Regions from separate parts of the Homo sapiens genome. Here regions 2, 3, 4 and 5 are each linked to region 1. Evidence: fine-mapped expression QTL. A gene starts in region 1. Each other region holds a variant in brackets. All regions are shown on one strand. Distances are from middle to middle. Region 1 holds the start of AGPAT4 (1-acylglycerol-3-phosphate O-acyltransferase 4). Region 2 overlaps AGPAT4 (1-acylglycerol-3-phosphate O-acyltransferase 4). Region 3 overlaps AGPAT4 (1-acylglycerol-3-phosphate O-acyltransferase 4). Region 4 overlaps AGPAT4 (1-acylglycerol-3-phosphate O-acyltransferase 4). Region 5 overlaps MAP3K4 (mitogen-activated protein kinase kinase kinase 4).

Evidence for each region. PIP is the estimated chance that this variant, and not a neighbour inherited with it, causes the effect.
Region 2: its variant is fine-mapped to the expression of AGPAT4 in whole blood (TOPMed, PIP above 0.99).
Region 3: its variant is fine-mapped to the expression of AGPAT4 in whole blood (INTERVAL, PIP above 0.99).
Region 4: its variant is fine-mapped to the expression of AGPAT4 in nasal epithelium (TOPMed, PIP above 0.99).
Region 5: its variant is fine-mapped to the expression of AGPAT4 in monocytes after R848 (Quach 2016, PIP 0.95).

What each region holds. Positions count from the first base shown.
Region 1 is chr6:161,271,606-161,277,830 of GRCh38, forward strand. AGPAT4 (1-acylglycerol-3-phosphate O-acyltransferase 4) reads right to left here and starts at 2,456. Exons shown (of 9, transcript NM_020133.3): 1 at 2,333-2,456.
Region 2 is chr6:161,208,954-161,215,178 of GRCh38, forward strand. The region is part of intron 2 of AGPAT4 (1-acylglycerol-3-phosphate O-acyltransferase 4); the gene reads right to left. Among named protein-coding and RNA genes, the nearest start is that of AGPAT4-IT1, 50 kb to the left of the region's middle. The variant A/G (reference allele first, on the strand shown) is at 2,367.
Region 3 is chr6:161,162,615-161,168,839 of GRCh38, forward strand. It overlaps AGPAT4 (1-acylglycerol-3-phosphate O-acyltransferase 4), which reads right to left. Exons shown (of 9, transcript NM_020133.3): 3 at 3,634-3,803. Among named protein-coding and RNA genes, the nearest start is that of AGPAT4-IT1, 3.7 kb to the left of the region's middle. RefSeq lists enhancers at 3,239-3,948, 5,431-6,026. The variant C/T (reference allele first, on the strand shown) is at 3,194.
Region 4 is chr6:161,246,348-161,252,572 of GRCh38, forward strand. All of the region lies in intron 1 of AGPAT4 (1-acylglycerol-3-phosphate O-acyltransferase 4), which reads right to left. Among named protein-coding and RNA genes, the nearest start is that of AGPAT4, 25 kb to the right of the region's middle. The variant AT/A (reference allele first, on the strand shown) is at 3,385.
Region 5 is chr6:161,104,316-161,110,540 of GRCh38, forward strand. MAP3K4 (mitogen-activated protein kinase kinase kinase 4) reads left to right here. Exons shown (of 27, transcript NM_005922.4): 20 at 2,199-2,390; 21 at 3,584-3,654; 22 at 4,428-4,544; 23 at 5,440-5,599. Among named protein-coding and RNA genes, the nearest start is that of AGPAT4-IT1, 55 kb to the right of the region's middle. The variant G/A (reference allele first, on the strand shown) is at 2,735.

The DNA of each region.
Region 1 (6,225 bases):
TTCCCTAGGCCAAAGCTGCTAACTGCTTTAACCTCTACTCAGCATCTGAATATCAGACAGTGTTTTGTTTGTTTATTGGGTTTGGGTTTTTTGTTGTTTTTGTTTTGGCTGTGCTTCTGAGGAAGTCTTGCTCTTTTTCCTTTCAGTTCTATTCCATTAGGCTTTTTGCTGTGAAATTTTGAATCTGGAAACTCAAGAGAACCGACATCGCAGACTTTGATTTACATGCTGTCAATCTGCTTTGGAAGGTCATGTGGCAAATCTGCCCTTGAGGACCATTTTCAGACAGGAAAAACAGTAATTTCAGCCTGGCTGCTTTTCAGAATTCTTTGCAAACATCAGATGCTCACAATCCAACCGTTTCTCTGTGTACTAACATGTGCTTTTCAAAATGAGTGTCATATTCTTTTTAGTAATACTTTTCTGTGTGTTATGCCCTTTAAATAGTTCTCGTCTTTAACTCCATGTGGCTCTGGTTTGTTTTGTGCCATGCTATTTTGCCCCATTTTCAGGTAACTTTTCTACCTGAATTACTTAGGACCTCTGGATTTATAGCAGATTTGATAAGACATAGATGATAGCATATTTAGATAAGGATCACAGCAAACAGAACCTCACTGAAACCACCCATTCTTCCTGCTTCCACATGGCAGGGTTGCTCAAGGTTTATAAGTAATGATTTTGGCTTTAGCAGCCGGAAGGTATGAGGGCTAAGTGACCTTCACACATGTTTATCTTAAATTATAGATAATTTTAAGAGTCATGAATGGGATTACTACTTATCTATTTTATAAAAGCTAATTATTTGGGATGCCCATCAGAAGAATGGTATCCCTTATCAAACGCTTCCTTAGACGTACTGAATAAAAGCATCAGTTTAGCCGGTACCTGTTAAGAGGCTATGTCTTTCTAAGAGATGTGTTATTTGATTCTAATTATAATTAACTTTGCTTATTACTAAGTAGATAATAATTTTCTCATTTCATATTTTTTCTGAATAACAGTTTTTCTCCCCATAGAGAATATTCAGAAGATGGAATCCTTTTAACGTAGAACTCAAGATGTGCCCTGTTCTCCCTGCCCGCCTCCCATTTCCCTAAACACACACACACACACACACACACACAAACACACACATTCTCCCTTCTCTCAAGATACTTTTTTTCCAACTGAGAGTCGTTGACTAATCACAGATGAGTTAATCCTTCCACAGTTTTGAAAAAGTCTAGCAACCCTCACCTTGAAGAGAGTGAATAGCGTGGCTAATCCATCTAAGAACAATGCACGAAAACGAAAAACGGAGAATCCTGCCCGGCAGTTAATTTGTTACTCATACTTGTTGAACTTAAGATTTGGAGCTAAATAAGTGCAGATGAGAGCAAAGACCCATCTTTTAAATATTTAAGCTTTTAGGCAAACCTGGGCAGGCAATATCACATTTATCAGTGCGAATTCTCCAATGCTCTCTAAAACTTTATTTCAATGATCTCACCTCCTGTAAGGAATTAATTCCCCCTTAGCTTGACCACAGGATCAATATCTTATCTTAAGAAGTGTTTAGGTTTTCTAAAAAAAGACCAGACACTGAAGACTTACATAAACATCAAAGCATTCTTTTTTTAATTCCTCGATATGGAGAAATTCATAGGCCGAAAATTAGGTAAATAGAGAGGTAATTACCAATGCCTGTTTCCTTGACAACTCCCCTCCCCCACCCCTCCTGTGATAGGGAAAAACCAAAATGAAAGTGAGGAGGGGTAGCCACAAGCCATGCTGGATTTTAGCAAACCAAAGCAAGAAGCAGAGCAGAAAGCTGCAAACTAGACACAAAATACAAATAAATCAATGTATATCGGGGCTGCATATTGTGTAGTATTTTTGTGGTTGCCATAGAAACGTCAGCGACGGAAGAACATGTTGCATGACACAAAAGAGAGCAATATGTAATAGGAACATTCCCCCCACCACCACCCCCCGCCCAGCTTCGTCTATAGCAGAGAAAATGCTTTAGCCCCGGGAGGGGGCTGGGTGGGTGGGTAAATGAAGCCAGGAACAGCAGCTTGAAATCACAGCCCAGAAAGGGACGCTCACCCGGCCCAGCACAAAGCGAGGGTCCTTTTGTACCAGCAGAGCCTCTCTTCGCCTCCCTCCAGGCGCCCCCTGCACCTTTCCCCCGCCCGCCTTGCACTCCCCCCCCGCCCCCGGAGCCTACCCCTTCCAGAGGTCCTAAGGAAATCCAGCCCAGGAGAGAAAAATATGCTGGGAAGAGGAATGCAAACATCAGCCACACCCAGCGGGGAAGGTGCCTGCGAACGGCACCAGGACCACATACCTCCTTCCTGGCAGCCTTTGGCACATGGACTTAGAAACCAGAAGCTGAGATGGAGCCGGCTGGGTTCAGAAATTGCCACTAGTTTATAAGAGCTGTAAGTCAGCCAACACTGGAAAGAAAAAGCGAGACTCCACCCATGGGGTGGACCCTTCAGGAAGAAAAAAAAAAAAAAAGTGGTCCTCAGCTGACGTCTCTCCCCACCCATGTCACTTCCTTTTAAAGCTACAAGTTAGCAGTTGCCGAGAGGGAAGAGCGAGCTGGTGTAATATGAGTCACTCCCTTCCCCTTCCAATTAGTGTAAGGCAGTGCTTCAGTTGGCTTCACGTTTGAAATCGCTTTTGAAATCTGGCTCGGGAAGCTGCCAGGATAAAAAAAAAATGAAAGCCCCCTGGAAGTGGCCTTGCTTTCTCTCCCCTTTCTCCCAAATCCTGTTGCATCCCTGCGCCCTAACGGCTCCTCTAACCTCAACCCAGACTCCGGCTCCGTCTGTGTTGCAACCTGGAAATTGTCCTCAGTTGGCTCATTTTTAATTCAGCAAGCGTAGGATCAATATGCCCACCCTCAAAACTCTCCCCTCACCTCTCCTCGGTCCGCTGTGCTGGAAGGAGATTGCGTTGCACTCAGAAGAGTCCAAATCATCTTAAACAAAATAAGCCTCAGCACTCAAGAGATTGAGATGTTATGAAGTGGGATGAAAGAAGCTTGGAGGTCGATTGATGTATTTTCTGTTTTCAAACCTTAGCACCATGGTTGATTACCACTGCACAGGCGTGCACACACGTACTGTCGCATGCTCACATGCACGTGGCATTTACACAGGTGTATCAGAGAGGGTCTGGGCAGACCTTTATAGTAAAAGTGTCTTCACAATTTTTAAAAAGGGTGGGCTGTTGAAAGTCCAGAAATGCCAGGATCTAGAAAATTATTTCAATTTCAAAATACTGAGGTGTATTCCTTTCAAATGTCCACTATTACAGCCATTGTCAAAATAATATTTAACTATTTACTTGACTCCTGGGTTAACCTTGTTCTTTAGATGTTTATAATCTATAAAGGAAAAATACATGTGCTCACAAATAGCCCAAGCACATTGCAGAATTACTAACAGCTATGCAAGTGTCAAAACCAGTGTGTCATGAAGACAGAATAGAAAGTGCTTTTTTGATTGCGATGGGGGAAGGCATTGATCATTCAGGAAACAGGGTTTGGAGTGGGTCCTATGGGAGGTGGCATTTTTCTTGTCTGTGATGAGAGACGGGGAGAGTGAAGCAGAATGTGGTGGAAGAGAAAGGATATGTGAGGCAAACAAAAAAAGGATCAGAACAGAAACCCATTTGTAGCAATAACTTGTTTTAATATCCATGTGAAAATAAATTTGACCACAGAGTAATGCTTATAAAAGATTTTTATAAAAAGTTCCTTGTAGTCATCATCTCTCGTAACTTTTCGAACTATGTTTTACGACCCATGTGCTTCTAGATTTGGTGGAAACTTGAGTTTTTCAAAGTGTTTTTCAAGTAGAGTTACACTGTTTTTCACGGTTGAATTCTGAATGGTAATTTATTTCAAAACCTACAAATTGCATAAATTCCTGATAATGTTATAAGTACAGTCAGTGATTTCAGTGGAAATGATAGGAAATTTAAAATTTGGACAATTGTAACTTTTATCCTGATCTCAGTACTTTAACATCCTCATTCCATTATTACATTACAATTATTATTATACTTATTATTGCTAACACTTTGCCTGTCTAGACAATGTTGCTCAGTCCCAGTTATCTCAGATATAGCTGAGAAATATGGGAGAAAAAGTTACTATTTCTAAAAATTTAACATAGAAATTCAAAATTCATGGATTAAATCCTATGCTTTTTTTTTTGAGACAGAGTCTTGCTCTGTTGCCCAGGCTGGAGTGCAATGATACGATCTCAGCTCACTGCAACCTCCACCTCCTGTGTTCAAGCAATTCTCGTGCTGCAGCCTCCCAAATAGCTGGGATTACAGACATACACTACCACACCCAGCTGATTTTTTGTGTTTTTGGTTGAGACGAAGTTTCACCATGTTGCCCAGGCTGGTCTCTAACTCCTGACCTCAGGTGATCCACCTCCACCTCCCAAAGTGCTGTGATTACAGGCAGGGAGTCACCACGCCCAGCCCTATGCACATTATTGAGTGCCATTTAGAGTCTATCCTTATGTGCCCTTATTTAGCTATTTCTATCTATACAAGGAATTGTGAATATTTCCAGGTCACAACGTAACAACTCAGTTCAATGTATGTTTATTGAGCATCCATGTTAGTTGCTGAAGATACAAAAACACAGATAAGACATGGAAATGGCCCCAAAGTGCTCAAAGTCTTAGAAGGGAAAGCGAAATGTAAACAGTTAAGACACAATGGAGGCAATGATTGACATTTGTACAAGATTCAGAGGTGGTTCGAGAATGGGAAAAGGAGAGGGAGGATACATCTACATAGTTTCTTAGCTAACAGTGGACTCTAAAAGGGGTGGAGGTGGACAGTATACTCATCCGTGAGATGGTAAGAAATAAATACTGGCAGTTGGAGAGAGGAGAAAAAAATTGAAAAGGAGACACAAATCATAAATTGGTAACCTAAAAAAGATATATAAGTGGTCCGTAAACAAAGAGGCAACCTTACATAAAAATACAAGTCACAAAGTAAGGATGTTATTTCTTTGCCTAGTCACTTGTCCAACACTCAAAAAGCTAGAACGTGCAGTGCAGAGAATGCAATGCCATGGGTTCTCTCTTCTGCTGGTGATGGCAAATTGATACAATCTCTGGAATTCAATTAAAGAAGATTTTTCATGAGCCTTTAAAATGTTCATACCCCTTAATCCAATAATTCGACTCAGAATAATTTATACCAAGGACATAAGCAGAGATAAATTCAAAGATTTGGGAACATGTATATTCATCAGAGCCATTTATAATAGTAAAGTCTGGAAACCATCTGAGTGTTTGAAGTAGCAGGTTAGCTATGGAAATGATGTAATCTTCATATGATGAAACACTCTACAAAAAATTAAAATTCTGTGTTTGAAAGACCTAGGGAAATTCATGGTATCTTAAGTGTAAAGGGAACTAAGCTTTATATAAATTATGGTCCCGTTTTCGTGATTCTATAAATATATATTACAGTGTGTGTAGTGGGTTGAATAAGTGTCCCCCAGTGTCCCCCACAAATTCATGTTCACCCAGAACCTCACAATATGAATTTGTTTAGAAACAGAGTCTTTGCAGATGTTAATCAGCTGAGACGAAGTCATTCTGGATTAGGATGGGCTATAGACCCAATACCTGGTGTCCTTATAAAAAGAGGAGAGGATGCAGAAAGACACACACATAGAATAAGGCCATGTGATGGCGGAGGTAGAGATGGGAATGATGTGTCTATGAATCAAAGATTGCTGGCAAACACCAGAAACCAGGAGAGACGCATGGAACAGACTCTCTGAGAGCCTCCAGAAGGACCCAACCCTGCTGATGCCTTAATTTTAGATTCCTGGCCTCGTGAACTGTAAGAGAATAAATTTCTGTTGTTTTAAGTCACACAGTTTGTGCTAATTTGTGATGGCAGCTCTGGGAAACTTAATGCAGTGTGATGAAGATCATGAAACTGTTAATAATCATTACTTCTGGAGAGTGAGATTGAGGATGATTTTTATTTGCTTCTTTATATGTGATTGCACTTTGGAGAACTTTCTACAATGGATGAACACGTGTGACTTTTACAGTAACAAGATTAGGACTAAAAACCAAATAACCTAGGTTTCTGAAACTGTTTCTGCAATTTAGAACAGACATAAACAATAATCAGTGATGCTTACGACACGGTGAGTCCTGAGGAGTAACATATTTTCAA
Region 2 (6,225 bases), 63 kb before region 1:
CTAAAACGGCAATCATGACCTTGTGTTAATTACTGGGGAAGAAAACGCACATCGAACAGGAAAGGCTGACTTTCAAGGAAAAAAAAGTGTAAACCAAATGAAAGAAGTTGGGTTGCCCATAAATCAGCTTGAAACCTGGTGATAAGTGGGCAGACATCACTTTGGTGCTAGAATGAGGCATTCCTCATCGAAGTGGAACTTTGATGAGTGACATGAGTTCCCCCACTCCAGCACCCTCTGGAGAAGAGCTGAGCAGAAAGCCACAATGAGGAATCCCAAAGGCTTGCTTGGAGGTGATGGCTGCTTTCTTCTCTACTGGGCTTGAATTAATCCATGGGCACCTATCAATTTCACCAACAGCTGTGACACTGTATGAGCCATGGAGCTGGATAAAAGGGCTTCATTACCACTCCTCTATGAGGAAAGCCTTGCCAAGCTGCTAGAAAATTTTTTGCAAATTTAGCTGTAAAATACGTTGATTGTTCTAACAAAGCCAGAAAGAGAAGGGAACTTTTCTGTTCCCTTTGTTGCTGATCCTGATACTCTGTTCCACAGCCTTGGGCATAATGAGGAGTTGGGACCAGTAGAACAGGGGGACTCTGAAAGCACAGACCAGGAGAGACCTGAATTGAGCATGTTCATAGCATGTTCATAGCAAGACTCCATGTCAGACCCGAACAGGCTCCTCGAGGGTCAGACAGGCAAAGCCTTCGATTTTCCCATGGAGATATAAGCCCCAAAAGAGCACGGAATGGGTCCTCATTTGTCTGTCCAGCTTTCGGAACAGTATGTACCTTAAGCAGGTGTTCAACCGACGTTTGTTGAATAAATGAATTAAGTCAATCAAGGCATAAATAGATGATTGGTCAGAGACCAGGCAGGATGTGATGAAGAACAGAAATATCAGGAGGTGAAACAGGGCACTGGTATGTTCACACCACAGAGACATAGATAGCCAAGACCCCTTTGTTTCGTTTTGTTTTGTTTTGTTTTGACTAAAATAGTTGCAACAGAGGTTATTCTTGGATTTTTAAGGAAGAGTATGGTTTAGACACTTAGGAACGTCTCTGTTTAAAAAAAATTTTTTTAAGTGCACTGTAAAAGCGTCTAACCTCATAATAATTCTCCCTTTTTGAAGACCCAGGATTCAGTGTAGGTTTTGCCCAGAGTTCAGAGATCCAGTTAAAAGATAGGAAGTCCCTATCTAAATAAACCTGGTCTCCTTATACAATCCTATGATAGATTTCTATGATTTTACATTTGATTTGGCATCCATCTTTAATTTCCCTCTAGTACCACCAGACTTTTTCTCTCTGTACTTTATAATGTAAATTTTGCTATTTGATTTACACCTTAGTTGTTTCCTTTAATATGCAAATTTAAGGCTATTTAGCTGACAGCTGCCTAGGATTGTGAAACAGATTATCAAGAATCTGAAAGTCTGAGACAGGATAAAACAAAAAAGGTTTTTATGAATCTATAAGATGTACTTCTATCGGCATGCCTAATATGTCTATGTATTTATGTGTTGTGTACACAATGTTTCACTACTGAAAATATATAAAGAGTTCCAATTAATTAGTTTAAGAAAACTAAAGCACTTGAATCAAATACTTTATCAGGAAAAAGGAAGAGACTAGTCAAATGCTTTTTCAAGTTTATGTAACTTAACTAATATATTTAATAAATAAGCTAGCTTTAAAATTATTGGTAAAGTAGTATTAGAAATGTCTTAAAAATTGCCAGCATATATTTTTGTTTGCATTTATTAATCAAGCAATTTCATACTTATCCCTGCCAAATACTATAAGGTGTCAAAAATTTGGCATAGGGGTTACAAAACTATAAACCCAGCCCAAATCAGAATGATCTTTTCTTGTGTACTCTTTAACAAATAAGACATTAATATTGGTTAAATAAAAATAGCTACATCTCAAATTTAGTAAGATTACTGTAACTTCTAATCTTGTGGCTTTAGGCAGTCTAGCCCACAGGCAGTAAAATTTGTTATCATCTTTGTTTCAAAACTAAACTATAAACTAAGTTCCTCCAAAAGTTAATTTGGCCTATGCCCAGGAATGAGCAAGGACAGCTTGGAGGTAAAAAGCAAGATGGAGTCAGTTACGTCAAATCTTTTTCACGGTCTCAGTTATAATTTTCCAACAGTGGTACCATAACTTTAAATGGTGACTATCACAGTTTCCATAAATAATCTAGCTAAACAAATAAAATACTTAGGTAAATGTTATAGGATAAATACTTGTAGACAAACTCATCATAATTTAGAATCTAAAGTTATATTAAATTAAATAATAGATATTTCATTATTTGGGTATTTGCCAATAGAAAACATTCTCTCCAAAAAC[A/G]AAGTGTGTCCTTTTAAAAAAGAAGATGAACAATTTTTGTCTAATTCAAAGCTTATTTAAAAGTCATGTATAAAACAAGGTAAAAGGAATGAGGAAATAAAAGAGATGTAAAGAAAGTTATAAAAATACAGAGGTTTCTTTGGCAAGAAAGCTTAAAGAGAAATAATTTCATATGAGAAAAAAATCTTGTATGGTAAATTTAGTCCTAGAGTAAAATGACTGGTTATTTAAGAAAGAGGGACGTTCAGGACAAACTAGAAAGTCCAAGCATGTCATGAACAGTCTGTGTAAGTCATAAAAAGAGATTTTTAAAAAAAACGTTTATATGATCAAGTTGTCATATTATTATTAAGTTTGGTTTACTTAGGAAAAAACTGAAATTAATTTTTTTAATTAAGGTTATTTCATCTGTATATCTCTCTGCATGCACTTTTAAAGTACTTGTGACACTGAGTTACAGGATTTTGAGTCCTGGGTCTAAAAATGACACCAAATCCTACTAAATTTTAAACACTGACAGCAATTAAAGCCCCATCTTCAGGTCCTGTAGAAGATGCCAATCAAAATAAACTACATTCCTGAGACACAGGGCCAGAAATTAAAGCCATTTCAACTCAAGGCCCAGAGAGTATTGTGGAAGAGGTGGGTGCATGAGATTGTAAAGGTCGATTTTGAAAGATAAAATAAGTTCAGTTTCTCTATAAATTAATCATTAATGTTGAAGGGCACACTGATGCAAGACTAGCATATGGGCCCCTGTGTCAAATTAACAAAGTTTTCTTGAAGCATTAACTGACTCCTCAGTAAATGTTATAAAGGTTATAAAAGGCTTATGGAAGCTGTATCTTATGGTCAAGATTAAAATTTTATAGATTGTTTACAAAATTTTGAAAAACAAATTTAAATGACTTTGTGCTATTTTTATTAGGGCTTATTGTTTGGAACATTAAGTCTCCTCTCTCAAAGAATGAAGATGTTTGCCTTTTTTGAAATCCTTGAGTTATCACTTTAGTTAAATGAATGACCCTATTTTATGATATCAATAGTATTAAACCTTTGTTATTTGACAAACTTGCCAAAATCAAATTATAAATTATGTCTTTTTCTTACCTAATTAATCCTTTAAGACATTAGATTCCCTAAAGTCCAAAAGTGACATAATTTGGCTTATCTGGTATAAAAATTATACAGGAAACATTGTCAAATACGAAATGGTGTTTGGTTTCCTTTAGGTTGTATTTGTATAAATATGTTATTGGTATGTGTTCCAAAATCAGGGTAAACTCCTGTAATTCTAATATGACTTAATGTACATTTTCAGTGATAATTATAATTTTTATGTTAAATTGTTAGTGTGCCACAAGGTAACAAATTTCCTTGTCAATTGTGTCTTTCACTATGGCTACCCTAATACATTTTGTCATCCATGGACAATTGTCTTGTTTTGGTCCTCCTTAGAAGGTGGTTTTATAATCAGCTATAGAACTCTAACAGGTGTTCTTAAATGCAGGTTTCTGATAACTAACTTATAACAATACAGTTATTTGCATAAGTGCAGTAAGAATCAATTTTCACTGTAACAGGCCACAATCAGAGAAACTGTTTATTTTACCAAGACTTTGACTGTAATGGTGTGCTTTCCTTTAAGGAATCAAACTTGACTTATGAAGCCAATAAAAACCCCTTGGAAAAAACTGGCCTCATACCTTTGTCTACACAGCCCCTGCACAGGGTTCCTGACCTGTGGTAGGTAAACAATGTCACTTTCTGGCAGGTCCAGGAGCCTCAAGTTTATCTTGGAACCTCAAGAGGAGCTGATCACCCAACTCATAGGTATTTGATGGCACAAATCCATGGCTGGGCTCGGCTTTAAAAAAGTCTTATCTGAGATTCCTCCTATGGAACACAGTTCCATCAAAGCCAATTTAAAAGCCTTTGTAAAAATAATTATTCTTGCTGCACTGTATACAAATAATTAGGCCAAGTATAATAAAGCAAACCAGTCCTACCATGATTTGTCTTTAGTAAAAATGGGAAACTGAAGAGAGAATAATTATGCTTCAAAACTATAGTACACCTGTTGTTAGATTCTAGTTTTATCTTACATTTTTCAATTTTTATTATTTTCTACAGTTTGGACTGAATTCTAAGTTTTCTGGGCTACAAGTCTTCAAAATAATGTTTTCAATTTTTTGTTCCTTCCTTTTTTTCCCAATTTTTCCTAATTTGGAGTCACTGAAAACTAAGCTGTGCTTTTGTAAAGCCCTGTGAACTGAAGCCAGACAACTTAAACTTCAAAAGAAAATGACAACAATCTATTTACATACATAAGCCACTTTCATACCTGCCTACTGATGTATGGGCTTCAGAGTAATGTGGCCTATATTGATTTTTCCAGGATTGTTCTTTTGCTTGTTGTTGTTTGTCTTCCTTCCTCTATTTTCTCTTCATAGAATAACCTTATAAAAATGAGTTTTCCTAATAACTTAGATCCTACCTGTCTAGGAATAAGCCATCCTAGTCATGAGAGATCAGACAAAACCTGGGAACAGAGACTCATCTTCTTCTAAAATGCTTTCTCCAAAAAAATTTTTTAAAGTGGGGGTGGGGGTGTTGGGGAATGTGAAAGGAAAATATCTTAGGCCCCCAAAATCACTTAAAGGGAAAATTCAAGCTGGGAACTGTTTAGGGCAAACGTGCCACCCATTCTATTCAAAGGCATCCCTCTGCTCACTGAGATAAATGCATATCTTACTGCCTCCTTTGGAGAGGCTCATCAGAAACTCAAAAGAATGCTACCATTTGTCTCTCACCTACCTGTGACCTGGAAGCCCCTCTCCTTCGAGTTGTCCTGCCTTTCCAGACCAAACCAATGTTCATGTTACATCTGTTGATTGATGTCTCGTGTCTCTCTAAAATGTATAAAACCAAGCTGTGCTTTGACCACCTGGGCACATGTTGTCAGGACCTCCTGAGGCTGTGTCACAGGCACACATCCTCAACCTTGACAAAATAAACTTTCTAAATTTACTGAGGCCTGTCTCAAATTTTGGGGGTTTCAGAAGCCTGTTGCTCCTAGGCTGCTCACCTGTACAGCATGTGACTGTACTGAATACTGTAGGTCACTGTAACACAATGGTAACTATTTGTGTATCTAAACATAGGGCTGGGCATGGTGGCTCATGCCTGTAATCCCAGCCCTTTGGGAGGTCAAGGCAGGCGGATCAATTGAAGTCAGGAGTTCGAGACCAGCCTAGCCAACATGGTGAAACCCCGTCTCTACTAAAAGATACAAAAAAATTAGCTGGGCATGGTGGCACACACCTGTAGTCCCAGCTACTCGGGAGGCTGAGGCAGGAGAATCACTTGAACCCAGGAGGCAAAGGTTGCAGTGAGCCGAGATCGTGCCACTGCACTCTAGCCTGGGTGACAGAGGAAGACTCCGTCTCAAAATAAATAAATAAATAAATAATAAAATAAACATAGAAAAGGCACAGCAAAAATACTGTATTACAATCTTAGCAGACACCGTTGTAAATGTGGTCTACTGCCTGAAAAGTCATTATGGGGCACGTGACTATATTTCAAAACTATCTACGTTGACCTCCAAACCTGTTCTGCTGGCCTGCCTTAGATAAGACTGAGACAAAGGCAACAGGCCCATCTGCAGTTTCAAAAAATCAGACCATATCCAGCTTCATACTAACAATTTTTTCTTTGGTAGGACTACAAGCTATGTTTTTTATGTGACATTTTAAATACTTATTTAAATACCCCATAGAGACTGTCTAGATGCTTCACATTTCTATAGGCTTGAGTACAATTTTAATACTATTACAAGAGTCTTCACAATTTGGCA
Region 3 (6,225 bases), 110 kb before region 1:
CTTTATGACACGCTTGTTGTTTTAAGCCGCTATGTTTTGGGTCTCATCACGCTGCCATGGATAACTAATCCACATGGCTTCTTTAAGGATCTGAAGACAAATATCCCAGTTGGCCCGGCAGATAAATATTGATAATATAATAATAGCTGCTGCTCATGGTGTGCTTGCCAGGGCCTGGCGCTACCCAGACACTGAACGATCATGCTCTTATGCAACCAGCCGGGACCTGCTAAGGGAAAAAGATAAGCAAATGGGGACGTGAAGCCTCAGGAACCTGACCTGCGCTTGCACACCACGGTTTGTTGGGCACCTTAGTGACCTGTGCCCCAGCTGACTGCGTGTCACTCTCATCTCCAGGGAGGCAAGGTTCAGCGTGTGACTCCAAGATCAACCAAAGCCTTCAGAGCCCTGGCACATGCCAGGAAGCACTGGCTCCCAGGAGAACCAGAGCCTCTGGGGACAGGCACTGCAATGAGCAGTGGCCTCATGGGATCTTGAGTACATTTAAAAGGTTGAAAGCCTCTTTGTTAAAAAGACAATTCCATTACTTTCCCCAAAAAGACCAATTTTACATTTAAAAATGCCACCTTCGTGAATTTCTGCAAATTTCATTGACTTCAATTTAAACTCATTTCCTCTTGGACTGTGATAGGTGAGGATGAAAAATGCCTGGTCAGGAACCTTCTTCTGTTCCTTTCCTCTTTAAAAAGCAAATTCCACAGACTCCAGAAGGATCCCAACATCATGTGTTATTTAAGAAAAAACAGAGAGATGAATGAGGTTGTTTTTTTTTTCTGAAGGTCATTAAAGACAAAAGATGTTGCTGAACAATGAATATAAGGCAATGCCGTTCTTTACCCCCTTCCAGGGTGGCAGAGATGAGCACCAGCCATCTCACCCACCGTCATGGGCCACAGCTCTCCAGTAGATGGCAAAGCTGTTCCCTGTGACATGGGGAGGGGGTTCCCTGGGAGGGTACAGGCTGGCAGCTCCCATCCGCCCCAGCCAGTGCCTGCCATGTGCCTGCCCCACTCAGTCCTCTCCTGGCACCTGCTCTCTCTAGCTCCTTGCTTTGTGAGAATGTGCATAACAATGGCACTGGCTGTTTCTGTGGTGTTTGGAGAAGAGAGGACTCAGGGCTTAAGGAAGCACTTTAGCAAGAATCCAGAAAACCCAAGGCCCCCACTGAGCAAGGCTCCCAAACTTCCAGTGAGAAGAGAAGAGGCATCGCCCTGGCCCCAGGCTCCCAGACCTGCCTATTTCACCTGTAAGTGGAGCCCCCGAAGACTCTAATCCTAAGCACAGTCTCCACCATCAGTGGCAGGGCGCAGACCCCCTTACACACAGCATTAGTTGTTTGGGTGTTCACAGTAATGAGTGAAGTCCTATAAATAGAATATCACCGATGAAATCAAGGGGAGGTGCGGTCCCTATGCTGCAGGTGGGATGGGCGTGCTGTTGACTTGCTTTCCCGCCATCAGCGCTCCCGCCCTTATGCTCAGAGTTGTAAAGTGATCATGGATTCGGAAGCCTTTGGGAGCAAAACCCTAAACGGTGCTGAGATTAAATTCCCGCTCCGTGAATGTCTCTTCCCGTCTGGGGGCTATGTCCTCTCTCTGGACCTGGGTCCCTCCCTGCATGTGTTGTGGGGCTCACCTTCTCCCTCATCTGTGCCTGTCCCCGTGCCTGCTAGTGCTGGGCATCTGGGTGCTTCTCCAGCATCTCTGTGCATGACCCTGCTCTGCCAGCTCCTGCAACTCCATCCCCAACCCCATGAAGGTGCGGGTGACTTGCACCCCTCGAATGAGGCCTTTGCACATCACGAGCCAGGAAGGTATTAGAAGCCTGGTCCTTACTGCAGCTGGTCTGGGTCGTTTTAGGATGGTCAGGGTCCTGTTTCTGGAGCAGGTCTTGGGCCCCAGGGCCCCTGCTTTTGTGCCCCCAACATCTTCCAGGGGAAAGAGCAGAAGCTTTGAAAGCAGACTTAGGAGCTATTGTCCTCGGGCAAATCACTCAGCCAAACTGAGGCTCTGGGGGTTTATTTATAAAATGTGGATAATAATATCCTAAGGATTAGAAATTACGGAAATAAGGTGAACAGCACACGGAGTGAGCTCGTGGGTGTAATGCCACCAAGGGGCAAGCAGGGATTGGAAGGCACCCCCAAGTTCAATGGGCCTTCTGCTCTACCTCAGAGACTCCTGGTCCACGAATTATGAATGTTTGCACATTCTAAGCATGAACACTACCAGAAAGTACTTACAAAGCCTGGAAAATCACCAGCTGCCTCTAAACTACAGTTTGAATTCCAGGAGACGCTGGCACCTCAGAAAGCCTAGCTGTAAAGGTGGTAAGACAGGTGACCTGACAGTCAAGATGCACCGGCTCCCCATACCCTTCCTCCTGGGCAGGAGAAGAACCCTGCCATTCACCCCTGGTATCCATGACGGGGTTAGGACCATGACATTCTAAGGGGCGATCTCTCATCAGAGAGAATAAATCCACAAAGCTGTAACTCAGATCTCTGCCCAAGTTCTCCACATCAGAGAATGATAGTTACTAGAATGTTTGCTCTTGTTCCTAGAAATATATTTGCACACACACACACGTGTACACACAAGAAGATATCAAGTTAGCACTGGGAGAATAAATAGGAAAACAAAAGGAGAAAACAGTGGGCAGGAGGCTATCTTCATCTGCCTCCAGGAACCAGACCCGTCTAGTTCCCTATGTCCTCCATGGCCTGATAGCCTCTGTCTCCAATCTTCTATATTCTAAACACCACGATTTTGTCTTCAGGGGCTACCAAAAAGCAAGGTGATTTCAGCAGCCCCCGTATCTGTTCTACAGGGCATTGTTCCCAGGTGCAAAACCTGATCTCTAAGTTCTGGTGCAAACTCTTAGGACCTTTCCTAGCCCCAGACCAATGTACACTGTGTACACTGTGATTCCTACGGAATACCTGAGTACCGCAGATGACTCTGATTCAGCTATGTGACACAGGCTCAACCGCTACACGCTGCAGTGTGTTGAAGACGACAAAAGTCAACTGAAGAGACCCAGTTCCAAAGGCATGCAAGCTACGTGCAAGAGGTCAAACTAGTTGGGAAAAAAAAAAAACAGAATTTCAGAATAATTCTGAATTTTGCAGTTCACTCTCTCACTTATGGACTCAAAGTTCTTAAGCCTTCAA[C/T]GATCAAAATGCAGAGGTGATGTCTGCCTGTTAGCCAAGGAGGCAGTAGAGCATGGAATTAAGAAATATGGATGGGAGTGAAATCCAAATCTAATTACAGCTGTGTGACTCTGAGCCGAATATTAAGCTCTATATAACTTAGTTTTTAAAAAATGGAGTGTGGCACATCATCTATTCATGTTGCTGTAAGGATTAAATAAATGAATCATATGTAAAATGGCCGGCAGGTAGCAATTGTTGAGTACCTCTTATGATTGCCCATAAGAAGCTGTTAAGACTGACTCCCAGCAAGAATAAAAAGCAGTTTATTAGGACCATTTCATCAAGTAGAAACTCTGTTGATTCTTCTGCAAGTTCTGAATGACCAGGAGCAAAAAGACAAGTGGTGGGGCTGAACCAGAGAAATGTGTGAGGCAGGGGGGAATGCACTTCTGACTTACCCCTAACAGCCCAAAGCGTTCGGACAGGCTCCAGCCACACAGAAAGTCAATTTCAAACTTGTGGTTGAGAACCACGATGGCATTTTCCTTCCCATACTTGAGGTAGGCGCGCGGGTCCGTGAAGATGGTGCATTCCGTGCCCGACCACCACTCCAGCAGCATCACCAGCTCTGGAACAAACCACAACAGACAGATGTTTACTACATGCAGCCTTGTCCTGGGAGCCCTGCTGAGAGCAGGGCTCTGCCCTCCCAGCTAGGGGAGAAAGCAACTTCTACGGGCAAAGTTCTGGATCGTTGCAGCACAGACCTTGGTCCTTGAAAGGGTTCAGAAGCGGAAGGAAACACGAGAAAGACTTCACAACATTCTCCAGGGAAGAAGAGAAGGATACTTGGAGAAGGTAAATGACTTACTCCTTGATTAAGTATCTTGGGGGAAAATAAATCAGAAAGCCAGAATCCGTCAAGAATTCATGCCCTTGTGTTTACAGAGCTCTGAAAGGCAGCGTGAGATGAGGTATAGAATTCTTAATATCCTGGAAAATGACTAATTGGGATACTTATAAACTCCATCAAAGAATATTAAATACCCAACTTTCCTCTCCCATTTCTGACACTTGAGGGCAGGGGAAGAATGGAGAACGGCAGATCCAGCCGCAGGAGCCCCAGCACCTGCAGGGCAGCGGGAGTGAGAGTCAGCCCACAGCAGGTCTGAAGAGAACTATTGAAATAGTCTTTGTAGGGGCTTGTGAAAAGAAAAAGATTCTTTCTTCAGGCAATCATGACCACTTGCAGTTTATTCTTCAGTGATGCCTCCCATCCAGGGAACCTATTCCCAATCTGGCAGGCTCAGGAAAAGCCTCTAGGGTAGAAACTGTCCAGAAAAACAGTTGAATGTGGGTGATGGACTTTGAAATGGACTCTTGAAGTTGACGGTGTTCAGTAGGGGTGGGCGCCTGAGTGCTCTGCGAGGGTTGTGCCTCCTCCCCCTTTCTTTTGAGATGGAGTCTTGCTCTGTCACCCAGGCTAAGTGTAGTGGTGTGATCACGGCTCACTGCAGCCTCAACCTCCCAGGCTCAAGTGATCCTCCTACCTCAGCCTCCTGAGTAGCTGGGACTACAGGTGTGCACCACCATGCCCAGCTAATTTTTTTGTATTTTTTGTAAAGACGCAGTTTTGCCATGCTGCCTACTGGGTAGACTCCTGGGTTCAAGCAATCCTCCTACCTCAGCCTCCTAAAGTGCTGGGATTACAGGCGTGAGCCACTGCACTGGGCCATGTGCCCCCCATTTTTAATCACTCGTTAGTGAAGCATGCATGCAGCAGAGGACTCACTCCCTCCCCACCCCATCCCTACCCTACAGGCAGGTGGATTTGGCCTTGACTCCAGTAAGCCTAGTGTTGTAGCTCAAGCGGCTGTCCTTGGAAACTTTTCTCCTCCAGGCTGGAAGCTGGAGGCTTGATGTGGAGCACCAGAGCCCTCTAGAAGGCATCACAGTCCAGTTTTTACGCAGTGAGCACTGCGGGACTTTGGACAAATTAACCTCCTAACACGACAGTGCCTTCATCTTTGGAATGGGGTTGCCCCAAAGGGTTCTGTGAACATAAAGCACCTAACACATAGTATGTGCTCAGCGTAGAGCACATTGTAAGTTCCCAGCAAACTGAAGCTATCAGTCTCCTTAAAAACGACGAAAACCACTCCCCTTCCTTCTCCAGAAATGAACAATAAAAAGTGTCTACCTATTTCTAGGAACTGAGAAAATATCAAGCTCCCATTCAGTTGTCCCACCAGGCCATAGCATTGCTGGAACCAGAAGCACAAGTCAAGGAATAGTGACGCATCCTGGGAGTTGGTTGTGGGGGCAGGAAGGCGGTGGTGGGGTGGGGGGCTAGGGTAACAACATGCAGCCTGGCAGGGCAGCCTGACAAAGGGACAGAGGGACAATTTGTTACCATGGGGCACGAAGATGCCTGTAGTGCTGGGCTGAGTTTTTCCAAGCCCGAGGATGGGAAGGATCAATCTACTCCATTACTGGCCAAAGGCCACAGATAAGCACCAAAGCACAACTCCACAGGGAGTCAGGGAGACAAAGCTGATGCTTCCAAGAGACTCACATTTCGTTTGTGTCACAGGCCAAATGCCTCTCTGTGGGACTCCTTCCTGCCTAAGGCCACTCTCACCGCCCCCTACCCCACTCACATGTTCCCCAGTACCCTCCACAGCCCTATCACAGCTGTGACCACAGCGTGAGGTTCTCTCCCCTACTATAGAGCACGGGCGCCACGAGACAGCAACTGTACTGTTTGGTTCACCCCGACCTTAGCCTCGACTCCAAGACTCAGCAAGAGCCTGGCACATGGATGCTTTCAACAAATGCCGCGTGATTACCTAATGCGTTCAAGCACTCTGCGAGATACAGGAGATGATTAAACATTAGATCAGATCCTGGCACCCCTCCAGCTTACTGTCCAGGGAAAAGACAGCTACACAACCACAAAACAACATGACAGGGAAAGGAGAAAGGCCTGCTAATAGGATGGCTGCTGAATATTGTCTTCATGGATTTGGGAGTCAGACACATCCAGGCTC
Region 4 (6,225 bases), 25 kb before region 1:
ATTCATATTTAAGTTCTACTATATACTAACATTGCATTAGACTTCTGAGCATAGGCACAGGGGATTCTTTTTTTTTTTTGAGACAGAGTTTCACTCTTGTTGCCCAGGCTGGAGTGCAATGGAGTGATCTCAGCTCACTGCAACCTCCGCCTCTCAAGTTCAAGCGATTCTCCTGCCTCAGCCTCCCGAGTAGCTGGGATTACAGGCATGCGCCACCACGCCCAGCTAATTTTGTATTTTTAGTCTAGATGGGGTTTCTCCATGTTGGTCAGGCTGGTCTCGAACTCCCAATCTCAGGTGATCCACCGCACCCAGCCTAGCACAGGGGATTCTTACAGAGCCCCTTGCTAGGTTTTAAGTGGTAAGTACCATGCCCAATAAACTAAAGCACTTACTGAGTAATATACCCTGGGCCGGGATGACTTCCACCCCTTCCACTTCTTACAGAACAGATGCTCAATAAATACTGATTCCATCTGAGTCTCTAGATGACCTAACATAATTTAATTTTCATAGTGGTAACACTGAACTGTCAAAGACAAAGCAAAAGTAAGAGCATAAACTGATAAAGTCCTGGGCTTCTTTCCCATTAACATTAAACACAGGGCAGATGACACACCAAGTTATTCTCCCTGCAAAATCCACGCAGATGAACCCACAAGATTGCTCTCCATACCTTTACATGCTGTAAGCAGCCAAGTTGAGTCCTCTTCCTACCAGCACTGAAACTGCATGAGGCTATATGTTAAACTGACATGAAATTACTCAAATAAAAGCAAATTACCTGCGGAATCCCCTGTAGAGGAGGAACTCAGATGTCGGTTGAGGAACACAGAGGTGACTTTTTTTAAAACAAAGAATCTTCTGTTAAAACACAAATCCAGTGAAACTAAAGGAAATTATACTAGCCGTGTAAATCACTTAGGCAAAGCCAGGAATTTCTTGAAAGGTAAAGTCACTCCATTATAACAGTAATTCATTATACAAAATGCATACAATTCTAAAATGCAGACATTTTACCACCTAGAACAGCTATTGACAACATTTTGATTTGTTTTCTTCTATTCTTTGGCGAATGCATAAAGCTTTCCCCTCCCCTTTGCTAGATAAAACCATTTCAGAGGCTTTTTTTATTTTTAAATATATAGTAGTTGAACTCCTTCATGTTAAAAACTCTCAATAAAGTAAGTATTGAAGGAACGTTCCTTAAAATAATAAGAGCCATCTATGACAAACCCACAGCCAACACATCATACTGAATGGGCAAAAGCCGGAAGCATTCCCCCTGAAAACTGGCACAAAACAAGGATGCCCTCTCTCACCACGCCTATTCAACATAGTATTAGAAGTCCTGGCCAGGCCATGGTGGCTTACACCTGTAATCACAGATTTTGGGAGGCTGAGGTAGGTGAATCACTTGAGGTCAGGAGTTCGAGACCAGCCTGAACAACATGGTGAAACCCCATCTCTACTAAAATACAAAAATTAGTCAGGTGTGGTGGCACATGTCTGTAATCCCAGCTACTCAGAAGGCTGAGGCAGGACAATCGCTTGAATCCAGGAGGCGGAGGTTGCAGAGAGCTGAGATTGTTCCATTGCACTCCAGCCTGGGCAACAGAGTAAGACTCTGTCTCAAAAAAAAAAAAAAAAAAAAAAAAAAGTCCTGGCCACAGCAATTAGGCAAGAGAAAGAAATAAAGGGCATCCAAATAGGAAGAGTGGAAGTCAAACTATCCCTGTTTGTAGATGACAGGATCCTACAGCTAGAAAACCCCAGTCTCAGCCCAAAAGCTCCTCAAGCTGATAAACAACTTCAGCAAAGTCTCAGGACACAAAATCAATGAACAAAATTCAGTAGCATTCCTATACACCAACAATAGACAAGCCAAGAACAAAATCAGCAACAAACTCCTATTCACAACTGCCACAAAAAAGAATAAAATACTGGCTGGGCGCGGTGGCTCACGCCTGTAATCCCAGCACTTTGGGAGGCCGAGACGGGCGGATCATGAGGTCAGGAGATCGAGACCATACTGGCTAACACAGTGAAACTCCGTCTCCACTAAAAATACAAAAAATTAGCCGGGCATGGTGGTGGGCCCCTGTAGTCCCAGCTCCTCGTGAGGCTGAGGCAGGAGAATAGAGTGAACCTGGGAGGTGGAGCTTGCAGTGAGCCAAGATCGTGCCACTGCACTCCAGCCTGGGTGACAGCGAGACTCTGTCTCAAAAAAAAAAAAAAAAAAAAAAACTAGGAATACAGCTAACCAGGGAAGTGAAAGATCGCTACAAGGAGAACTACAAAACACTGCTCAAAGAAATCAGAGATGACACAACGAATGAAGAAATATTCCATACTCGTGGATAGGAAGAATCAATATCGTTAAAGTGTGCATACTGCCCAAAGTAATTTACAGATTCAATGCTATTCCTATTAAACTACCAATGACATTCTTCACAGTACTATTAATAGAAAAAACTATTTTAAAATTCATATGGAACCAAAAAAGAGCCTGAATAGCCTAAGCAAAAAGAACAAAGCTGGAGGCATCACACTATCTGATTTCAAACTATACTACAGGGCTACAGTAACCAAATGGGCATGGTACTGAACAAAAACAGACACATAGACCAATGGAACAGAATAGAGAGCCCAGAAATAAGGCCACACACCTACAACTATCTTATCTTCAACAAAGCTGACAAAAACAAGCAATGGGGAAAGGACTCCCTATTCAATAAACAGTGCTGGGATAACTGGCTAGCTATATGCAGAAGATTGAAACTGGACACCTTCCTTATGCCATATACAAAAATTAACCCAAGATGGACTAAAGACTTAAGTGTAAAATCCAAAACTATAAAAACCCTGGAAGATGACCTAAGCAATACCATTCTGGACATAGGAATGGGCAAAGATTTCATGACGAACACACCAAAGCAATTGCAACAAAAGCAAAAATTGACAAATGGGATGTAATTAAACTAAAGAGCTTCTACACAGCAAAGGAAACTATCAACTAAGTGAACAGACAACCTACAGAATGGGATGATATATTTGCAAACTATGCATCTGACAAAGGCCTAAAATCCAGCATCCATAAGGAACTTAAATAAATTTACGAGAAAAAACACACAACCCCATTAAAAAGTGGGCAAAGGACATGAACAGACACTTTTCAGAAGACATACATGAGGCCAGCAAACACATGAAAAAAAGCTCAACATCATGATCATTAGAGAAATGCAAATCAAAAACACAGTGAGATAGCATCTCACACCAGTCAGAATGGCTATTATTTAAAAGTCAAAAAATAACACATGCTGGTGAGGTTGCAGAGAAAAAGGAACACATACACCATTGGTGGGAGTGTAAGTTAGTTCAACC[AT/A]TGTGGAAAACAGTGTCGCAATTCCTCAAAGACCTAAAAACAGAAATATCATTCGACCCAGCAATCCCATTACTGGTTATACACCCAAAGGAATATAAATCGTTCTATCATAAAGACACATGCACGCTTATGTTCATTGCAGTACTACTGCAGCTATTCACAGCTATTCACTATTGCAGCTATTCACAATAGCAAAGACATGAAATCAACCTCAATGCCCATCAATAGTAGACTGGATAAAGGAAATGTGGTACATATATACTGTGGAATATTATGCAACTATAAAAAATGAGATCATGGCCTTTGCAGCAACATGGATGGAGCTGGGGGCCATTATCCTTAGCAAACTAATGCAGAAACAGAAAACCAAACACCACGTGTTTTCACTTACAAGTGGGAACTAAATGATGAGAACACATGGACACATTGAGGGGAACAATACACACTGAGGCCTATCAGATGGCGGAGGGTGGGAGTAGGGAGAGGATCAGGAAAAATAACTAAGAGGTAGTAGCTTTAATACCTGGTGACAAAATAATCTGTACAAGAAGCCCCATGACACAAGTTTACCTATATAACAAACCTGCACATGTATCCCTGAACTTAAAATAAAAGTTAAAAATAAATATACAGTAGTTGAGATTTTATTTTAAATCTATTTTATATGCTCTTTTCTAGCCTTTAATGTGAAATCATATTCAGTTGCCATATTAGAATATAAATATCCTTCTCATAATTATACTAGACATATCATAATTATTACCTAATTGCCTCATTATTATATTTAGGCTTCTTTGTGTTTTTTCAAGAATAAATAGTGCAATGTTTAGCAATTCTGGGCACAAACCTTTTTTTTTCCTGAATTTTGGGTTATTTCTTTGCAATATATTCCCAGAAACAACATTTCTGCATTCCAGAAACAAACATTTTAAGGTACCTAGTGAATATTGACAAATTGCTTGTATTGCCAAATATTGCCAAAATATTTGTAGCTGTTTATATTCTTACTAGCAATATATATAAATACCCATTTCACTACATGTTTGTCAGCAATAAGAATTCTCATTTAAAAACAATGAAAAGCAAAATTAAATCTTTATACAGTCTTACATTAAACTGCATTTCTGAATGGCCATGAAGCTGCATGTTTTAAAGTATTTATTAAATGCTGTTTCCCCTCCATGACTTTTTTATTGATTGTGCCTTTATCCCTTGCATATTGCTTTCTTAAATAGAATAACATCTCGCCTATTCCATTTAGAGTGACCAACTTTTTCAGTTTGTTTATTTTTATTCTTAGCTTATTGGAGGTTTAAATTACGATGAAGTAAGAACTGTAATTTCTTTCATAATGTTTAAACTTAGGGCTTCCTTCTACGCTTATTTCTTATCCTGCAGAAAACTGATAAATGTTCACTCATTTTATCTAGTTTTTCTATAGTTAATTTTGTTTTTAGCTACTCAATCCATCTTACACTTATTTTTGGTTACAGTCCTCTGTGAAGATTTAAATGGATTTCCAAATAGCTAACCAGTTGTATCCAAGGCATTTGTTGAAAGATCCTTCTCTACCTCATTGATTCCCATGCAGTCTCTCCTACATCGAATACCAATAAACAGACATGAATTGAACTGTAGGGGTCAATTCTCTAACTATTCCTTTGATAGATGAGAAAGCTGACAGCTAGAGTGTTAAGTGACCTGCCTGTCACTCAGCTGGTCAGAACAAAGGAGGGCTCCACCAAGCTTGTGTGCCCCCAGCTCTTTCCTTGGCCTTGCTCTCTTGGCCTCTCCACCTGATCTCCTCTTCCTCTCCCAGAGGCTGCACAACGTTACCCTGCATTACAGACCAGCCTGTCCGGCCGCTGGTTAAAGACCCGCAGGGAGGATGGAAGCTGCGCCTGAGAGCTCCTGCAAGTTCATTTGTGCCAACGTATTCCCAGGTGGGAATGAGGGGAGCCAGGTGGATGCCAAGCCCACTTCCCGGGCCTTACGTTTCCCATTCAAACATGGGAGACGTGCTCTTGATACACATAAGGGCATTGATAGTTTACAAATCTACCTATAGGGCAGTTTCTGCAGGAGGAACAAAAGCAGAGAGGGGGAGCAGCCATTTAGATTCTTCTAAAGGGATACATTACCTGTTACAGATTAGGGAATGGAAGGCCTATGATGGTAGGGAATTGTAATTATCTTCTTAACCCATTTATGCTGGAGAGTATAATTTTTTGAATTTTTGCATGAGTGAAAAATCAGACCTTGGTGATGACCTTGAGCAGGAGGATATAAATAATTCCCACATGCTTAGCGTTCCAATAATGGAACACTAAGTTCCATAAGTGGGTTAATGGTTATAACTCAAGTGCCAGAACAGGAATGTGTGCAGCAGTAGAGGGTGTAACGAGGCCTCTAGAGGCCCCGAGACCACCTTCCTTTGACAAAACTACGGCCTCTGACATGGGGTTGTGGGTGGCAGTCAGTGACTCGTTTCTTGCAGTGGTAATAGGAGAGTCCTCTCTCCAACCCAGACATTTGCTTGATTCATGGTTATTTTGGGTAAAAGTAAATAAAAGTTTCACGTTGCGAATTCCCAAACTTTGGGGAATTCCTTCATAAACTAGATGAATTCTGTGTGTCTTGAATTCTGCTTTTGCTTTTAGGTTATGAGCTCCTTCAGGGTCAAATATATTATAAATGAATTAGAAAAAATTGTGAACAATTATAAATGAATAAATAGAAAATAATTATAAAATCTGAAAAGGAAGATTCAGCAATTTTGCTTCTTCTAGAATTCTTTGAAAATACAATTGGACAGGCACAGAAGCTCACGCCTATAGTCC
Region 5 (6,225 bases), 170 kb before region 1:
AGGCAGAAGAATTGCTTGAACCCAGGAGGCAGAGGTTGCGGTGGGCTGAGATCGCGCCATCACACTCTAGCCTGGGCAACAAGAGCAAAACTCCGTTTCCAAAAAAAAAAAAAAAAAAGCAGGCACAGTGGCTCACACCTGTAATCCCAGCACTTTGGGAGGCCAAGGCAGGTGGATCACGAGGTCAAGAGGTCGAAACCATCCTGGCCAATGTGGTGAAACCCTGTCTTTACTGAGAATACAAAATTAACTGGACGTGGTGGTGCGCGCCTGTAGTCCCAGCTACTTGGGAGGCCGAGGCAGAAGAATCTCTTAAACCCAGGAGGCGGAGGTTGCAGTGAACCAAGATCGTGCCCCTGTACTCCAGCCTGGTGACAGAGGGAGACTCCATCTCAAAAAAAAAAAAAAAAGGAATCTTGAGAAATTTTTTTTTAAGCGTTTCTCAGAAATATTTGTCAGTGGAGCCCATGGCCTCACTGCTGTCAAAATCTTGCCCTGTGCTGGGTAGATTTGCAGTGTTGTATATTGAGGTAAAGGAAACAAACTTGGATCCGTATTTTAAATAAATGAGTGTAATAAGAAATTATAACTGGACCATTATAAATCTTTTAGAATTTCTCTTTTCAGATTAACCTTAGAGTCATCCCAGCCTTCAAGGATCTCTTCATCTGAGCCAGAAAACATAGGCTCTTGGGTAGCTAATTAGGATATGGTATGAAAAGTGTTGTCATAGAGAAGTGGACAAACCATGGTTGTCAATTTATGGGTTGTGAACCATTAGTGGGTTGTAAAATTTTAGTAGGAGTGATCAACATTTTTTAAAAAAGAACAGGATGAAATCAGAATCACATGTAGTAAGGGTAATAGCTCACAGAACTGTTAAATGTGTGAAAGGTATTTCTTAGTATGAGTCATGATAAAACAAGTTGGAGAAATAGAGATAAATTGCCTGTGGGAAAATGAGGAATAATGGCAATAGCTAATATTTATTGAGTTTTACTGTGTTCTAGCCTCTGGGCTAAATGCTTTACAGGTATTATTTCATGAAATCCTCACAGTAGGTCTGTGAGATAGGTATTTTTATCTTTATTTTACAGATTAGGTTTTTAATGTGTGAGGAAGTTAATTACCTTGCCCATTGTCAAACACCTAGAAAATGGCGAGGCCAGCATTTTATCCCAGGCATTTTGATTCTAGAGCCCTTTTTCTGTACTCTTCCCAGAGAAGGGAAAATCCTTCTCATCAGAGATGGCTTCCTAGAAGAGGCGTGGCATTTCAGCTGCACTGTGTGAGTAAGATTCACTCAACAGATACTCAGGTATGAAGAAGATACTTTAGGCAGAGGGAAAGGTGTAAAAGTAATGGAAGTGAAAAGTAAAGTAGTTTGGTGTGTTCTGTAAGAGTCTTTCAGTTTGGCTAGTGTGAAAACATAGAAAAGACAAACTGGGTCCAAATTCTGCAGGGGTTTGGATATTTGGTTAGTAGGTAGTGGAGAACCATGAACTAAGTTTTTTGGTTTTTTGTTTTTTTTTTTTTTTGAGACCTGGTCTTACTCTGTCACCCATGCTGGAGTGCAGTGGTGCAATCTTGACTCACTGCAACCTCTACCTCCCGGGCACAAGGGATCCTCCCACCTCAGCCTCCCAAGTAGCTGGGACTACAGGCACACACCACCACACCTGGCTAACTTTTGTATTTTTTTGTAGAGATGGGGTTTTGCCATTTTGCCCAGTCTGGTCTTGAACTCCTAGGCTCAAGTGATCTGCCCACCTCACCTCCCAAAGTGCTGGGATTACAAGAATGAGTCACTGCTCCAGGCCTCGTGAATTAAATTTATGTAGGACAGTAACATGATCACATTTTATGTTTTAATAATATGGCAAACAAGAGTGTGGAATGGAGAGAGGAGAAACTAGAGACATGTATATTACTGCAAGATTTTAGCCAACGTTCTTGGGAAAGGAAATCATTTTTGTGTGACTAGCTTATATTTTATGTGTGTACTGTATAAGGGGTGGCATATGCTGGAATGAGTAGCGTTTGAAGAACTTTAATTCACCTGCTGTTTATCTGAATAGATAATAAGCTTTGCTGTAATGGAGTGCTAATATATATTGCTCTATTTTTATTGGTTTGTCTTTTGGAAACTGACTTGATAACAGTGATTGGGACTAATGAGGTTTTGGTTCTCTCTGCAGATACTGCTTCTAAACTAGGACCCATAGAAGCTATCCAGAAGTCAGTCCGATTGTTTGAAGAAAAGAGGTACCGAGAAATGAGGAGAAAGAATATCATTGGTCAAGTTTGTGATACGCCTAAGTCCTATGATAATGTTATGCACGTTGGCTTGAGGAAGGTGACCTTCAAATGGCAAAGAGGAAACAAAATTGGTAAGGAAATTAAGGAGCATGATGTCAAGATAGTCCCTGTTAGAAGTAGCAATAGTTATACTTCTTTAGGTTGAATCCTATAGAGTTGGCCCTTTTTTCTTGTAGACATAGCAAGTATGCATTGTTATCTTTTTGCAAAGTGGTCTGGATTTTTTTTGGTTGTTTAATTTGTAAAATGTATTCTAAGAGCAATACAAAATGAGATTTTAGAATGAGAAAGAGATTTCTAAATGATTCATTGCATTGGATTCTTTTGCTTAATAACCCTGGAATTTGCCAGTGGAGAGGTACCAAAATTTGACCCATTTGTTCTAGTTTCTCTCTCTCTCTCTACACACGCGCGC[G/A]CACACACACACACACACACACACACACACGCAGAACGTGATTTGAAGAGAGACTGGATACAAATGAGGGCAAGACAGTCTTCTTTTCTAAAACATTGCCTCATTAATTAATTTCCAGGTGGAATTGCTTCATGTAAAATAGTCGTAAATTATGTGAGGGAAGAAGTCTTGTGTTTCAGATCCTTTCCCCACTTAAATATATTTATCTGTCACACATCTAGGTCTGAAGGGGGCGAACACAGTTGTATGAATAATATGGGACTTTGTCAGCCTGAGGAAACCTGATGTTTCCTTGGAGCTATCAAGGAGGGCAAAAACCACTGAAAACAATCAAGTACTTTATAAATTGGATTAATTATTGTTATCAGTCTTGTCCAGGCACATATCCTCTTGCTTTAATGTCCCAGAAGGTATGTTAGGGGAATGTTTGCTCCCACACACTCCTGGACATGTGCCAGTGAGGAAGACAATGGTCAGGCTTAGTCCTGGCTGTTTTCTGCTGCTCCCAGCCCCAGCCAAGATCTCCTTGAGGGGTGTGAGGGCTCAGAGGTGTGCACCAAGGCTGCTTTTATTGGTCATTTTCATGCTTCTCCTGGAATTTACCAAAGTCGGTTCTGCTCTATTTAAAGATACTTGTAGGTAAGACATATTAAAGAGATTGCCTAAAACTTTAGTTATCAGGGAACATTTAGAAAAATTTTGGATCTTGCAATAGTAAACTGCAGTAAACATAATTATAGATATATAAATATACGTCCAAAATAATTGGACAGTATTATTACAAGTTTAAGGAATGTAAGACAGCCCCCTGCAGTGGCTGGAAGTGCAGCTTGTTTGCATTGTTCACAGGAGAAGGCCAGTATGGGAAGGTGTACACCTGCATCAGCGTCGACACCGGGGAGCTGATGGCCATGAAAGAGGTGAGTCACCTGGCTCCGTGGGGCCTTTGGGCCTGGCGGCTCTGGGTGATAGAAATTCCGTATAGACGCTGGTCGTGATTCAGTTCTCTGTGCGTAGAGCTGTCTTCAGCACCAGCACTGCGACAGTCAGGACCAACCAGGCAGATGCACTGAGATAACACACACAGACAGTGAAGGGGCTTACGATTCCAGAGAGGATAATAAGTCACAGACAGTTCTAACAGCACAGGTGTGAGAAGGGCCTATGAGGGTGGCAGAGCTGAGTCTGATGAAGGCTTAGAGGAGAGGATTAACAGTAGTGTCTTATGGGGACACATTGGGGGAGAAGATAACATTTATGATAAGCTTCAGAAACAAGTGGCATTGAAACCGCTGGAGGTAGGATGGGGAAAGGGCCAGGGAACCTGAAGTAGAAACAGGACTCACTGCTGTCTGTGGAGACATCCGGTTTGACGTGGAAGGAGGAGAGGAGTGGAGAGGGGAGGCTCCAGCGTCTTGCACTTGCCGTGGAGCCGCGTCCTCCTCCACATGGCGCTCCTCACTCCCTCTCGGAGCAGGGCCTCTTCCTCCTCTGTGCCCGGGACCTACCCGCACTTCTATGACTTCACTCTAGCTTGGCTAAAAACTTCCTTTTTACTTAATTTTTTGTTGTTTTTAATTGACAAATCATGATTACATATATTTATGGGGTGCAAAATGATGTTTCAGTGTATGTGTATAATGTAGAGTGATTAAATCAAGCCAGTTAACATTTTTGTCACCTCACTTTACAGATTCGATTTCAACCTAATGACCATAAGACTATCAAGGAAACTGCAGACGAATTGAAAATATTCGAAGGCATCAAACACCCCAATCTGGTTCGGTATTTTGGTGTGGAGCTCCATAGAGTAAGCCGACCCTAATGCCACTCTTTGTGTGAGGAATCAGTGAGGGCACAGAATGGAGTCCTGTTCTACATCACAGGTCTTCTCATTTCAGAGCACAGTAACTTTGCCTAATTCTCAGGAAATCTCCATGAGTTACATCATTTCTGCCTTCTCTCTGAAACTAGAGGAGTTCCTCCTAAAATGTAAGTTGTAGACTGTAGTCATTAACCCGACATCATAAAGCACTGAAACCCATCCTGCCATTCAGAAGATTCTTCTAAAACGCCCCTTACACCACTTCTTGTGACTTTTTTTCCGTTTTTTTGCTGAACCACTGTTGAGTACACTGTTAAGTAATACTGGTTTTTTTCTTGTATGTATTTAGGGAGCCATTGTGAAATGAGAGAAAATTCAAACCTCAAATTGAGTTTCCTCCTTGTGTTTAGAAATAAACACGTCGAGGGAAAGAGGATAACTTGGAGCATCGTGGTGTAGAGCATGAGCTTCCAGGGGAAGTTGGAAATGGATCATTTTTAATGTTTTTACAAATTATGTTTAAAAAGGATGTGTTTCAGTACTTAATAATGTATTTGTAGGGACAGCCCTGTTGGTCCCTGTCTGAGATTATATAGCAGACTTAATTTCAGAGGATAATAGAAATTGATCCCCTGTGATTTGGAGATGTTCTTATCCCCAAGAGCTGTATAATTCCAGACAGAGGAGGCAGGCAGACACCTCTATAGAGGACTTAGAAACGACTGTTGTGAGACACATTCAGTGCTCAGGATGGCAAGTGTAGTATACCGTTAGAAAGAACATTCCTTTGGGGTGTGGCCTAGGAAGTTTTCCAGATTTTTCACTAGCGTACATCTAAGGAAAACCGTAAACACAGAGCTGCCCTTTATTCCTCCCACAGGAAGAAATGTACATCTTCATGGAGTACTGCGATGAGGGGACTTTAGAAGAGGTGTCAAGGCTGGGACTTCAGGAACATGTGATTAGGCTGTATTCAAAGCAGATCACCATTGCGATCAACGTCCTCCATGAGCATGGCATAGTCCACCGTGACATTAAAGGTAATCCCACACCCGCCTGGCTGCTGTGGGCCAGAGCCACTGGTACCCAGCCCGTGGGAGGTGCTCTGAAGACGCTCATCCCATTCCCACATATGATTTCTCTAGATGGAAATACCTTTCATTGAAATACGCCTCTATAAGGATCCTGTATTCAGAAACAAGGTAGAACTCATGTCTCTCTACCCAGGAGTCCGCTCTTTCTGTTCAACACTGCTTTTAGAGAAATCTGTTTTCCCAAAATGAAGTTTGCTATTTTTATAAGCTGATTTGGCATAGCCCGTGTACTTACCAGACATTCGTGATCAAAGCAACCTTTTTTTTCTCTCGTGTCAGGATTCTTGTCTATTTATATATGAAAATCATGAATATGTAAACCGACAGTAAATCAGATCAGAAGTGCACATATAAATTTGAGGCTACGTTTTTGAGACAAGAATGGGGTTTGTTTACACAAACCTTGAAATTGAGTTCTGCTGAAGGTTATTTTGGCCATGCTGATGGATTAAAAGTGCTCTTCTCATAGCACGAGGGGAATAGCTGGGCTTCTGTCTCAGAACGGTCACCGTGGCATTTGCCTTAACCACGCCATGCCCCTGACCTTTGTATTTGCAAGTCTTGAGGATAAT